Linked DNA regions of Homo sapiens: regions 1, 2 and 3 are each reported to be linked to region 4. Evidence: microRNA targets listed by miRTarBase, many of them from high-throughput screens and not tested one by one. Region 4 holds a microRNA gene; each other region holds the end of a gene's coding sequence.

Region 1 (3,153 bases), not on the chromosome of region 4:
TTTTCTGACTGTTCTTACATTGATCCCATGACTCACAACCTGAACCGAATACTGATCGATAATGGATACCAACCAGAATGGATCCTTAAGCAAAAGGAAATAAGCGATACTATTGAGCAACTCAGAGAGGCAATTTTAGTGTCTAGGAAAAAACTTGGGAATCCAATGACACCAACTGAAAAGAAACAGTGGAACCATGTTTGTGAGCAGTTTCAAGAAAACATCAGAAAATTAAACAAGCGAATTAATGATTTTAATTTAATTGTTCCCATCCTGACCAGGCAAAAAGTCCATTTTGATGCTCAGAAAGAAATTGTCAGAGCCCAGAAAATATACGAGACCCTTATAAAAACAAAAGAAGTCACAGATAGAAACCCAAATAACCTTGATCAAGGAGAAGGAGAGAAAACACCTGAAATCAAGAAAGGTTTTTTAAACTGGATGAATCTGTGGAAATTTATTAAAATACGATCATTTTGATGTTTACTATCATAAATCATTCTTAGTTCCACTGACACTTTACATGGAAAATGAGATTTATTGCTATAATACAAGAATTTAAGAATTGTGCCATTGTACTTATCACAAAACTAATCACATAGCCAATGATGTGTGAGTGAGAAACCTATCAGGTTTGTCCTGAGGATATAGCAAGAAAAGAAAATAACTGAAACTCCTTTTTTTTTGAGACGGCGTCTCGCTCTGTCACCCAGGCTGGAGTGCAATGGCACAATCTAGGCTCACTGCAACCTCTGCTTCCCAGGTTCAAGTGATTATCCTGCCTCAGACTCCCGAATAGCTGGGATTATAGGCACACACCACCATACCCGGCTATTTTTGTATTTTGTTTTCTTTTTTTTTGAGACAGAGTCTCACTCTGTCGCCCAGGCTGGAGTGCAGTGGCGCGATCTCGGCTCACTGCAAGCTCCACCTCCTGGGTTCACGCCATTCTCCAGCCTCAGCCTCCTGAGTAGCTGGGATTACAGGCGCCTGCCACCACGCCCAGCTAATTTTTTGTATTTTTAGTAGAGACGGGGTTTCACTGTGTTAGCCAGGATGGTCTTGATCTCCTGACCTCGTGATCCGCCCGCCTCGGCCTCCCAAAGTGCTGGGATTACAGGTGTGAGCCACCGCGCCTGGCCTATTTTTGTATTTTTTGTAGAGACGGGGTTTCACCATGTTGGCCAGGATGGTCTCAAACCCCTGACCTCATGATCCACCTGCCTTGGCCTCCCAAAGTGCTGGGATTACGGGCTTGAGCCACCATGCCCGGCCTAATTTTTATATTTTTAATAGAGATGGGGTTTCACCATGTTGGCCAGGATGGTCTCGATCTCTTGACCTCATGATCCGCCCCCCTTGGCCTCCCAAAGTGCTGGGATTACAGGCGTGAGCCACCATGCCTGGCCAAAAATAACTGAAACTTCTAAAGAAAATAATTTAGTTCATTCTAGTGTTAAAATGTTGGTCATCCAGTGAAATGAGCTAGGATCAGGTTTCTGACTTAGGAATCATACATGAATTCCAAAAGTTTTGGTGCAGTTTTGAGCTGTAATAACTAACTTAAAAGCAGTGACTGTTGCCATTTTCAAACATAGGTACTTAAACAACAGGGAAACCGAAAAATATGTTATCAAAAGTCACAAAACTGAAGTGTTATGAAATTTAACCAATTAAACCTCCAGATGACTTTTTTTTTTAAACGAGCTTGCTGGATTTATATTCCTGAACTTATTAAGGCTCAAAACCGTTCCAAGACTTTTGGGACACCCTCCATATGGGTGGAAATATTAAGATCAGAAAATTAGCCTACTGGAATTACTGTACTTTTCTTTTTATGAGGGCCTTCTCTGTGGGTACTGAATGAAAAACACACCAAACATCCAGATTCTACTTTTTCCTGTCTAACTTGATGGTTTATTGGCTGCAGAAATCAGTGAAGCTAGTTGATTTAGCAATTCTAGAAAAAAACTCCAGTGTCCGCTTTTTTTTTTTTTTTTGAGATGGAGTTTCACTCTTGTTGCCCAGGCTGGAGTGCAATGGTGCAATCTTGGCTCACTGCAACCTCCGCCTCCTGGGTTCAAGTGATTCTCCTACCTCAGCCTCCCAAGTAGCTGGGATTAGAGGTGCCCGTCACCACGCCCAGCCAATTTTTATTTTTTTTAGTAGAGATGGGGTTTCACCATTTTGGCCAGGCTGGTCTCGAACTCCTGACTTCAGGTGATCCACCTGCCTTAACCTCCCAAAGTGCTGGGATTACAGGCGCGAGCCACTGTGCCTGGTCCAGTGGCCACTTTGTTTTTTTGAAATGGAGTTTTGCTGTTGTTGCCCAGGCTGGAGTGCAGTGTTTCCTTCTTTAATCCAGAGTGCTGTGTTACAGAAGTGGTTCAGAAGTGAGGGACTCACCACCTGCATTTTGGAAGAAAGTGTTATTTTGTAAAATGTGTGATAGTTAAAACAACAAACAAAACTACACCTTCAAAAAGAAATTTTTGGCCTTTAGCTTAGATGCTGCAGCATTAATTGGCATAATATGTGATTATAATTTATTGAATGATTTGTCATTTGGTTTCTACAATGATAGTATCACTGTAAATAAAATTGTGAACAGTATGGAATGTTGCTTAATAAGAGCTATAGTTCCAAAAACATTTTAGAAGGCAGTAATTTTGTGACTCTTGTTAAAAGTGGGAATTCGAGGCCGGGCGCGGTGGCTCATGCCTGTAATCCCAGCACTTGGGGAGGCCCAGGCGGGCGGATCATGAGGTCAGGAGATTGAGACCATCCTGGCTAACACGGTGAAACCCTGTCTCTACTAAAAATACAAAAAAATTTAGCTGAGCATGGCGGTGTGCGCCTGTAGTCCCAGCTGCTGGGGAGGCTGAGGCAGCAGAATGGCACGAACCCAGGAGGTGGAGCTTGCAGTGAGCCGAGATCGCGCCACTGCACTCCAGCCTGGGTGACAGAGCAAGACTCCGTCTTAAAAAAAAAAAAAAAGTGGGAATTAGACGTAAGAGGCTTAACTGCATTACAGCAACATAGATGAACAAAACCATTTTCCATATTGGTCAATGAGAAGGTAAGGTTACCAGAAAATGTCAGTAAATTTTTAATTTCAGCACAGTGCACTTTATGTTTGTAAATGTTGTCTAT
Region 2 (3,159 bases), not on the chromosome of region 4:
TTTTTAAGATGCGAGGTTCGGCCGGGTGCGGTGGCTCACTCCTGTAATCTTAGCACTTTGGGAGGCCGAGGCGGGTAGATCGCCTGAGGTCAGCAGTTCGAGACCAGCCTGGCCAGCATGGTGAAACCCCATCTCTGCGCCTGTAATTCCAGCTAGTAGGGAGGCTGAGGCAGGAGAATCACTTGAACCCGGGAGGCGGAGGTTGCAGTGAGCCAAGATCGTGCCATTGCACTCCAGCCTGGGCAACAAGAGCGAAAATCAGTCTCAAAAAAAAAAAAAAAAAGCCAGCCGGGCGCAGTGGCTCACGCCTGTAATCCCAGCACTTTGGGAGGCCGACGCGGGTGGATCACGAGGTCAGGAGATCGAGACCGTCCTGGCTAACACGGTGAAACCACGTCTCTACTAAAAATACAAAAAATTAGCCGGGCGTGGTGGCGGACGCCTGTAGTCCCAGCTACTCCGGAGGCCGAAGCAGGACAACGGCGTGAACCGTGAGTGAGGCGGATCTTGCAGTGAGCTGAGATCGCGCCACTGCACTCCAGCCTGGCGGACAGAGGGAGACTCTGTCTCAAAAAAAAAAAGGCGGGGCACGGTGGCTCACGCCTGTAATCCCAGCAATCCCAGCACTTTGGGAAGCCGAGGCGGGCGGATCACGAGGTCAGGAGTTTGAGACCAGCCTGGCCAACATGGTGAAACCCCATCTCTACTAAAATACAAAAATTAGCCGGGCGTGGTGGCGGGCGCCTGTCATCCCAGCTACTCAAGAGGCTGAGGCAGGAGAATCGCTTAAAACCAGAAGGCGGAGGTGTCAGTCAGCCGAGATTAAGCCACTACAGTCCAGTCTGGGCAACAAGAGCTAAACTCCCTCTCAAAAGAAAAAAAAAAAAAAGACACAGGGGTCTTGCTATGTTTCCCAAGCTGGTCTCGAACTTCTGGCCTCAAGCAATCCTCCAGACTTGGCTTCCCAAAGTTCTGGGAGCCATCGTGCCGGCATCTTCTTGTGTTTATTACGTTTTTAAAGCAGCCCTAGAAGATAAGAACCATAACACTCCCTAGCTCCTCCTCGACACCGTCTTGCTCAACCACCTCCCGTAACTCCCTAGTATTCAATCCCACCTCCTTGGCCCCATTTATGGGCACCTGCGGTCTTCATTGCCCACCTGTGTCCTCACCTCTAACCAATTCCTTCTATGTCTGGGCTCTCCCAGACCTTGCCATTTCCTCCAAGACTTCCCTGACTGCATTCTTCAAAAAGGCAAGTCAGGTACCTTCCCTGAAGTCCTACAGCCCTCACAATCCCCCTCCCAGCCCTGACACCTCTGTGTCCAAACTGCCTTCCTGACTTCCAGGGCAAAGAATGGGCACCCAGCACACAGCAATTGCACAGTGAAGTTGCTAAGTGGAAGCTACTAAGTATTATTACTCCAACAGCAACAGAGCAGAGGAGAAACCAGCACTGCATTTTATAGGCGACAAATGCACCTCACAGTGTTAAATTCTTGCTCAAAATCAAACATCCCCAAGGGACAAGTGGAAGATTCAAACTCCTTATGGGCTGGAGTTCAAGACCAGCCTGGTCAACATGGTGAAACTCCCCTCTACTAAAAATACATAAATTAGCTGGGCGTGGTGGCATGCACCTGTAATCCCAGCTACTTGGGAGGCTGAGGCACCAGAATTGCTTGAACCCAGGAGGCAGAGGTTGCAGTAAGCAGGGATCCGACAACTGCACTCCAGCCTGGGTGACAGAGCGAGACCCTGTTTCAAAAACAAACACCCCCCCGCACACACACACAGTTTTCCACCAGTCTTCCCAGACCTATAAAATTTATGACACAGGCTGGGCATGACGGCTCACACCTGTAATCCCAGCACTTTGGGAGGCCGAGGCAGGCAGATCACCTGAGGTCAGGAGTTCGAGACCAGCCTGGCCAACATGGTTGAAACCCCGTCTCTACTAAAAATACAAAAATTAGCCGGGTGTGGTGGTGGGCGCCTATAATCCCAGCTATTCGGGAGGCTGAGGCAGGAGATTGCTTGAACCCAGGAGAGGGAGTTTGCAGTGAGCCGAGATCGTGCCACTGCACTCCAGCCTGGGGGACAGAGCGCAGTGGTTCATGCCTGTAATCCCAGCACTTTGGGAGGCAGAGGAGGGCGGATCACCTGAGGTCGGGAGCTCGAGACCAGCCTGACCAACATGGAGAAACCCCATCTCTACTAAAAATACAAAATTAGCCGGGCGTGGTGGCGCATGCCTGTAATCCCAGCTACTCGGGAGGGTGAGGCAGGAGAATCGCTTGAACCCGCAAGGCGGAGGTTTTAATGAGCCGAGATCCCCCCATTGCACTCCAACCTGGGCAACAAAAGGGAAACTGTCTCAAAAAAAAAAAAGAGTTATGACACATATAAGGCAAGTGGAACTTTGAACATTTATTACACGTTTAATAATATTTCAAAATTATTGATAATTCTTTTGGATGTGATAAGCTTTGTAATTGTCTTTTAATGAGCTCTCATCTTGGAGAGATACATTCTGAAATATTTACAGAAGAAATAATCCGATGCCTGAGATCAGCTTCAAAAGAACTCAGGATGGGGCAGGGACGGGTTGTAGGTAGTCGGTAGTCAGGGTACTGGGTACACGGATGTTCTTTGTACTGTTCTTTGGTCTGTTGCGCAGGTTCGAAATGCTTCCTAATTAAAAAGCCTAAAAAGGGACTTGGCAAGCTCCCATCCAGACTTCAACCCCACAATATGGAGAGCACTCAGGTCCGAGGCGTTCCTGCTCCCCAGCTCCCTGCAAAAATAGCGCCAGGCAAGGTCCGAGGCGAGGGCGATGCTTCCATGAGGGTCCCGCCGACTGCGTCGCGATCCTCAATGGCTCAGCGACTTGCGGCCCTTGAGCATTCGGCGAAGGATGACCTGCACGCCGGCCGGCGTGCTCAGGCGCCGGACCCAGCCGTGCTTGTTCTTGCGTTTGATGTTGCTCGGCTGATACTCATTCCCGCGAGCCTTGCCCCGGGCCTGCTGCGGGGTGGGGAGGCCCCAGGCGTCTGGGAACCCCAGCCAGGCCCGGGGCTGGAGCCACCTGCGTGGGTAGAGGGACGGCGAGAAAGGTCAGACGGGGCGCTGGGTGACCTTGGCGCTCAACCTCTCTGA
Region 3 (3,159 bases), not on the chromosome of region 4:
CCATAATTTCTATTCTCACATAAAAAGTGAAGGTACCATAAGTCCCCTAACTTTGTACCTTTTCTAAGTCAGGATTTTCAGTCCACTCTGAGCAGGTGAAAGAAATAAGACCACCTACTCCACTACCTTAACTTTTATGTCACATGACTTATGAGGTAGGTTTACATCATGGGATTTACTCTATAACCCAAAAGTGTGAAATACTTCTATTACATATAACAAAAGAGTGATAAAGAAATAGTGGAACTGCCTTAACTTGGTTGTGTTACAAAAAGCTGGTAACTAACTACCCATTGTAAAATGAGCGATGGTGAAGAGTATGGGCTCAGAAGTAAAAATGCCATGACTGGAATCCAGCTCAGTGACTGAGTAGCTATGTGATCTTTGGGGGTTACCTAACATACCTACATTGTGTTGTCCTCACCTTTAAAATGGGCATAATAGGAGTACTAATCTCTTAAGGTTGCTGTGAGGTTTAATGAGATAATTCAGCACTTAGAAAGGCATCTGGCACCAAGGAAGCTTTCAATAAATATTAACTATTACTCAGAAATTGAATAGTTTTTTATTTGTTTGGGTCAATCTCAGTACTACTAGAACTCAAAATACTATATTCTAATTGTTCTAATTTGTACCATCTGCAAAAGACCCTTTAAGACTGCTTCAATGATTCTGAAAAGAATTAACAAAACCCTGTTACTAGGTGCCTGACCTTAGATATTACAACTGTTTCATTTACAAAACCTCCACTACAAAACACTAAGCTTGCAACAAAACAACAAAATGAAAGCCACATAATTTGAGTAACACAATAGTACATATTCTTCAGCTGATGAGAGTAATAGGGAAATGTATATACTTCCTACACAAATGCATCTAGGGAAAGCAGGCTATATTTATTCAAGAACTAGAAAAAGGTTACAATATAAATCTATCAAACAAAATTCATTTTTGTTATATTCAAGTAACTCATATATATTCAAATTTAGACCAAATCAAGACAACAATCCAATACACAGATTATTATATAGCTCAAGGAGCAAAAAACAACAGTCTTGTCAATACAGACTCTACATAAATACACAAATCTCAAGTTTTAATATAACATGAACAAATCACAAGTACATGTGTTAGTGTTCTTTCTCCAAATTTCTAGTAGTAAATCTTGTATATTTAGTAAAAGCATATAGAATGTATAAAACCTTCAACCACATGTAATGTAGACTAGGAAGTGTAAATCAAGTAGAATGTGAGGTTTTTATATGTAAAGATGTACATTTCAGAAAGAACCCAACATGAAGTAAATTAACAAACATATTGCAAAGGTGGTCACTCACAAAAATGCTTATCATTTGCAATTGTATACAGAGAACAAACTGCCCAGAAATTAATACTGGAATCTTACTGAGGGGTATTATAGTAACCAACCTTAAAGGACAAATAACTTATTTGGGGGGTTAAAATAGCAGAGATCAGTGTAAATTAAATAACACATGAATGAAAAAAATCTACAATATACAATAGCAAGAGGTGAGAAAACTGAATACTGTGAAAAAGATTTATTAGTCTGTACAAGTTGGTTTTGATGAACTACTGGTTACTTGTTAAGTAAATTGTCAAGATTTTCATTGTGACAGTATTTTCCCTCACACATCAGAATCTGGAAGCAATATGCCTTTTTCAAATTATCACTTAGTGTTTTTTTTCCCCACCCCTCAAAACACAGAAATAGGTTTTTGAATATCAACTAGCCATTATGGAAGCCGTAAGATACAGATATTCATCAACATTACACAAGCTACAGTTAAGGTACCTGGACAAACACTACCAACATTTATGAAAAAAGATGTTGGTTTTAAAAGTGTATGAGGAGTTACAATAAACACACTATTCATGTCCTCCTGAAACCAAAATGGGGGAAAACCTTATTGTCATTCTGCCAAACACCACATAACTAAAAATGCTGCACAGTCATGAATCCAATGTACATATCACAGGATTAAAACTCCAGTTAAGCAACTGAGCTAATCATTGAAGTAAATTAAAAATACCAAGCTTCTTTAACCTATCAATGCTGTTTTAGAAGCATCATCCGAACAAATAGAGATTTAGTTATAAATTGGCCTGGGCTACATTCTGTGATGAGAATTTTGCTTAGTACTAAAAAAGAATCTCAAACATCCCAGAAAAGCTGTGGAATCATGCTCTTTATTATTCCTGAAAGAAAATTTGCCACGTTTGATGATACCTCTATTCTTCCCCGTGGTGCTAGGAGTTCTAAATACCAAGTAATTCAGAAAATGATAGGAGTATTTAAGCAAAAAGAATAGCAAAAGCAGACTTTGTATCAACATATCCTAGATAGATGGATTTTTTTAAAAATTACATGATAAATGTAAATCATAAAATTGAATGTACTTATAAAGGTACACCTATTTTGTGCTACATAAAAAAACTGTAGACTGCAAACTGTGCATGCTTACCATAACATTTTACCCGGGGTCGATGAGTGGGATTTCTTGCAAATATTTACTGCTATGATATAAAACAATTATGTGCAAACTGCAAGGTCCCTAAAATAGCAGTTAAAGAGTTTATATACAGAAAGATGTCACTATCTGATCAAATATGCAAGAGATGGAATTTCCCAGAGTTTATAACACAGAGCAATAACCACCACAGGCTCCTCCTCCTTGGCCTTCTTCCCTGTGTGACAGTTTGACTCCTTTATTCTGGTTCTCACTTTCCCACAGTCCAGGGGTCTGAATGATCTTTTCAACAAGTTCTTCAAAGGCACATTGTACACCATCACAGGTTTTTGCACTTGCCTCTGAAATTCAAGGAAAAAGGTCATTCATAGTATATTCCTTTCTGGCCATATTCTCATGTTTTTCTGGGAAACTATCAGGGCATAAATATCAGCCTACAATATATTAAGATCCAAATCAGCAATTTTTCCCCAAAGGTCAATAACTAGTGAATTTCCAAATCTCAAAATTGAGCTAATTAAATTCTATCCATAAGAATACTAGTATATAATTTTATACCAAAAAAACACTGGTTTATAATCTTAAAACTGTGATAGAATTGTAACTTGTAAAGCCCTACTTAAATAGCGAGCGAAAGTTTTTTCCTTAAGCTTTCAGTTAACTCTTACAA
Region 4 (3,159 bases):
TCTGAAAATTAATCAAGGTAATCTACCATATTAATAGGCTACAGAAAAATTATATAATCATATTAATTGATGTAGAAAAAGTTGTTTAATAAATTCAACATTCATTCATAATGAAGAGCTATCAGAAAACTAGTAATTGAAAGGAACTTCCTCAACCTGACAAAAGATCACCTATGAAAAAACCTGCTGCTAATATCATACCTAATCATAAAAGCCTGATTGTTTCTCCTCTGTTGTTCAGGAACAAGGCAAGTATTTCCACTCTCACCCTCTATTCAACATATCTGTGGAAGTTCTAGCTCATTTAATAAAGAAGTATAGGGAAGCTGGGCGCGGTGGCTCACGCCTGTAATCCCAGCACTTTGGGAGGTCAAGGCGGGCAGATCATGAGGTCAGGAGTTCAAGGTCAGCCTGACCAATATGGTGAAACCCCATCTCTACTAAAAATACAAAAATTAGCCAGGCATGGTGGTGCGCACCTATAGTCCCAGCTACTCGGGAGGCTGAGGCAAGAGAATCGCTTGAACCCAGGAGGTGGAAGTTGCAGTGAGCCAAGATCGCAACACTGCACTCCAGCCTGGGCAACAGAGCAAGACTCCCTCTCAAAAAATAAATAAATAAATATAAACAGAAATATAGAGGAAGAAAAGGCATACACACCAGAAGGGTAGAAATAAAATTGTCTTTATTTGCAGATGGCATGATTATTTGCATAAATGATTACAGAATACACACACACACACACACACACACACACACACACACACAAATCCCATAACTAATAAGTGAGTTCAACCCAGTCTCAGGATACAAGATTAACATACAAATATTCATTGTGTCTCTATAAATCAGCAATGGCCACATATGGCCATAAAGGGCATCACGAAGGATCCTTGTAGAGATGAACTGGTTTGTATCTTGACTGTATCAATATTCTGATTGTGATAACATATTGTAGTTTTGCAGTTTTTACACCTGGGGAAAACTGGTTAAAGGGTATATCTCTGTATTACTTCTTACAACTGCATGTAAATCTGCTTATTTTCCTGATAATTACCACATTTTCAAACAAATTCATAAAACTACCTCATTAAAACAAACAACAACAAAAATCTCTAATCCCTTATCTCCTGACAGCTACAACATTCTCTCTTTAAGGCCTTGTCTACACTCAACAGCTTCAACAGCAATTGGAGAAGATTGCAGAGTAAGTTCCTGATTAAGAAATGGAATTTACTCTGCAATCTTCTCCAATTGCTGTCACCATCATTCCATAGCTACAGCTTTTCCTAACATCCCCAGTCATCTCTACTTGCCAAAGTCAATGGGCATTTTCAGTCTTCACTGTGCTTGACTCCTCAGCATTTGAAAGTGTTGGCCATTTGCTCGATCCTAATCATTCTCTTTCCTTCCAAGGTACAACGTGCTCCTGTCTAATGTACCACATGCTCCTGTTTCCCTGCAGTTATTCTTATGCTCATTCCTGTCCCAGGAACATTGCCTGAAATATATGCTACTTGTCTGTTAGATTTCAGCTGGTGTCACTTCCTCAGGGAAGCCCTCCTTGACCTCCCTGATTAGGTCAAATCCCTTTATCATGGTCTTTTAGCACATTGCATTTTCCCTTGGTGGTTTGTATAAAACTTGCAGATTCATATTAGTCTTTAGGCTCCTTTGATGTGTTCGTTTGCCCTTCTTTCCTCTAACTGTACTAAGGAAGGAGTCATCTGAGTTTGTGTCCACCGTCAATTCTCAGCTCCTTGCCTTAATGACACATATTCAGTATTTAATACATATTTGTTAAATAAATGCCTGAATGACAATATCAGAAGAAAACTTGATTTATACGTAAAGATTTTTTCTATCAATGAGTAAGAGTAATTTAAATTTTCTTTTTTTTACAACAGGACTGCATGAGCAACTTATATAAGTCAGGTTATATGTTTTATAGACAGAGATTTACTTTTATCAGTGGAATTGGACATATTTAAATACAGAACACCTGTATTTAAGTAGTTTATTTTCTGAGAGGGAAATTTATAGCACTAAATAGATAGATTAGAAAAGAGGAAAACACTCAAATCAAGAATATAAGCTCCTATCTCAAGAACCTAGGAAAAAAGGAACAAAATATGCCCAAAACCAGGAAAGAATAATAAAGTTACCAAATAATAAAGGAATAAGTCAGGATATATGTTTTATAGACAGAGATTTACTTTTATCAATGGAATTGGACATATTTAAATACAAAACACCTGGCCAGCTCAGTCAGTGCAGTATGAGATGTTTAAAGTATGCAATTCTTGAAGGAAAATTGGATTGACCAGTTAAAATATGGAAACCAATTCTGAATAATTTAGTCTTTACTTTTGAGAGGAAAAAATTGAATGGTACTTCTTTAGAAATCTACTTCATTAATAGAGCAGTGATTCCAATAGATCTAACCCTAACCGTGTATGAACAAGAACAGATATTTGGTAGGATGGTTTTGCCAAAGAGAAGGGATAAAACACAAGCAATCTTTTCACATAGGAATGCAATGTACAAACAAATTTAGCTAACAGCCTAGTGTGTATGCGCATTCACATGTGTGTGATGGCAAATGGTGATTATACAGAGATATGCTCCCTTGCCTCTCTCTTCTTTCTAGTATTTCTTCCCTTTACCAGACTGTCATCTGCAGAATCAAAATCCAACACATTTCTCTAAGGCAAATAAATCTTTCCGTGTCCTGCCTTTCTCCTTATCTTTGCTGTCTACCAATGTGCAAAAGTGTGTGTTGTACACATATTTCAATTTCATGATACAGTAAGCCCAGGCTTCCACAATGACAGTGGTGTGGTTAAGCAAGAAATGAGATTACTGTTCCTTGGCTAGAGTATTACGTAGGTCTAAAATGGAATGTTAGTAGTTACTGTTTCTCCTTAAATCCGGCTTTAGAGTAAGCCATAAACTGGTTGGTATAATTGGTCTTGATATAGCAGTTGTCATTTTTATGTAATAACAGTCTTCTTTTCCAGTCAAGGGATATAAGTTTGCTCTCATTTTACATTTGTTTGTATTTCACATATGGTATACATCACAGCAACAAGCCTTTTCAATAAATTCTTCAGTATGTTTACTAGATTAGCAAGGGCAGATGGCTATTTGTTAATAATT

Evidence for each region. Region 4 holds the annotated microRNA hsa-miR-4699-3p (AAUUUACUCUGCAAUCUUCUCC, at 1,231-1,252, shown strand). A microRNA usually pairs through its seed, bases 2 to 8, with sites in the 3' UTR of a target mRNA and lowers its output. Matches are read on the target gene's strand: a 7mer-m8 pairs with bases 2 to 8, a 7mer-A1 pairs with bases 2 to 7 and ends in A, and an 8mer does both.
Region 1: the mRNA of DNAJC28 is a reported target of hsa-miR-4699-3p. The part of its 3' UTR that is shown has no 7-base or 8-base seed match.
Region 2: miRTarBase lists MRPL34 as a target of hsa-miR-4699-3p. Seed matches in the 3' UTR shown: 7mer-A1 at 2,540-2,546.
Region 3: miRTarBase lists RAB18 as a target of hsa-miR-4699-3p. Seed matches in the 3' UTR shown: 8mer at 2,527-2,534 and 7mer-m8 at 174-180.

What each region holds. Positions count from the first base shown.
Region 1 is chr21:33,485,554-33,488,706 of GRCh38, reverse strand. DNAJC28 (DnaJ heat shock protein family (Hsp40) member C28) reads left to right here. Exons shown (of 2, transcript NM_001040192.3): 2 at 1-652. The coding sequence ends at 480. Among named protein-coding and RNA genes, the nearest start is that of DNAJC28, 4.6 kb to the left of the region's middle.
Region 2 is chr19:17,306,095-17,309,253 of GRCh38, reverse strand. MRPL34 (mitochondrial ribosomal protein L34) reads right to left here. Exons shown (of 2, transcript NM_023937.4): 2 at 2,411-3,088. The coding sequence ends at 2,875. Among named protein-coding and RNA genes, the nearest start is that of MRPL34, 1.8 kb to the right of the region's middle. RefSeq lists enhancers at 1-105, 1-388 and a silencer at 3,069-3,128.
Region 3 is chr10:27,537,547-27,540,705 of GRCh38, reverse strand. It overlaps RAB18 (RAB18, member RAS oncogene family), which reads right to left. Exons shown (of 7, transcript NM_021252.5): 7 at 1-2,830. The coding sequence ends at 2,655. Among named protein-coding and RNA genes, the nearest start is that of LINC02680, 27 kb to the left of the region's middle.
Region 4 is chr12:81,157,203-81,160,361 of GRCh38, forward strand. MIR4699 (microRNA 4699) reads left to right here and starts at 1,186; the gene lies at 1,186-1,259. The region is part of intron 7 of ACSS3 (acyl-CoA synthetase short chain family member 3); the gene reads left to right.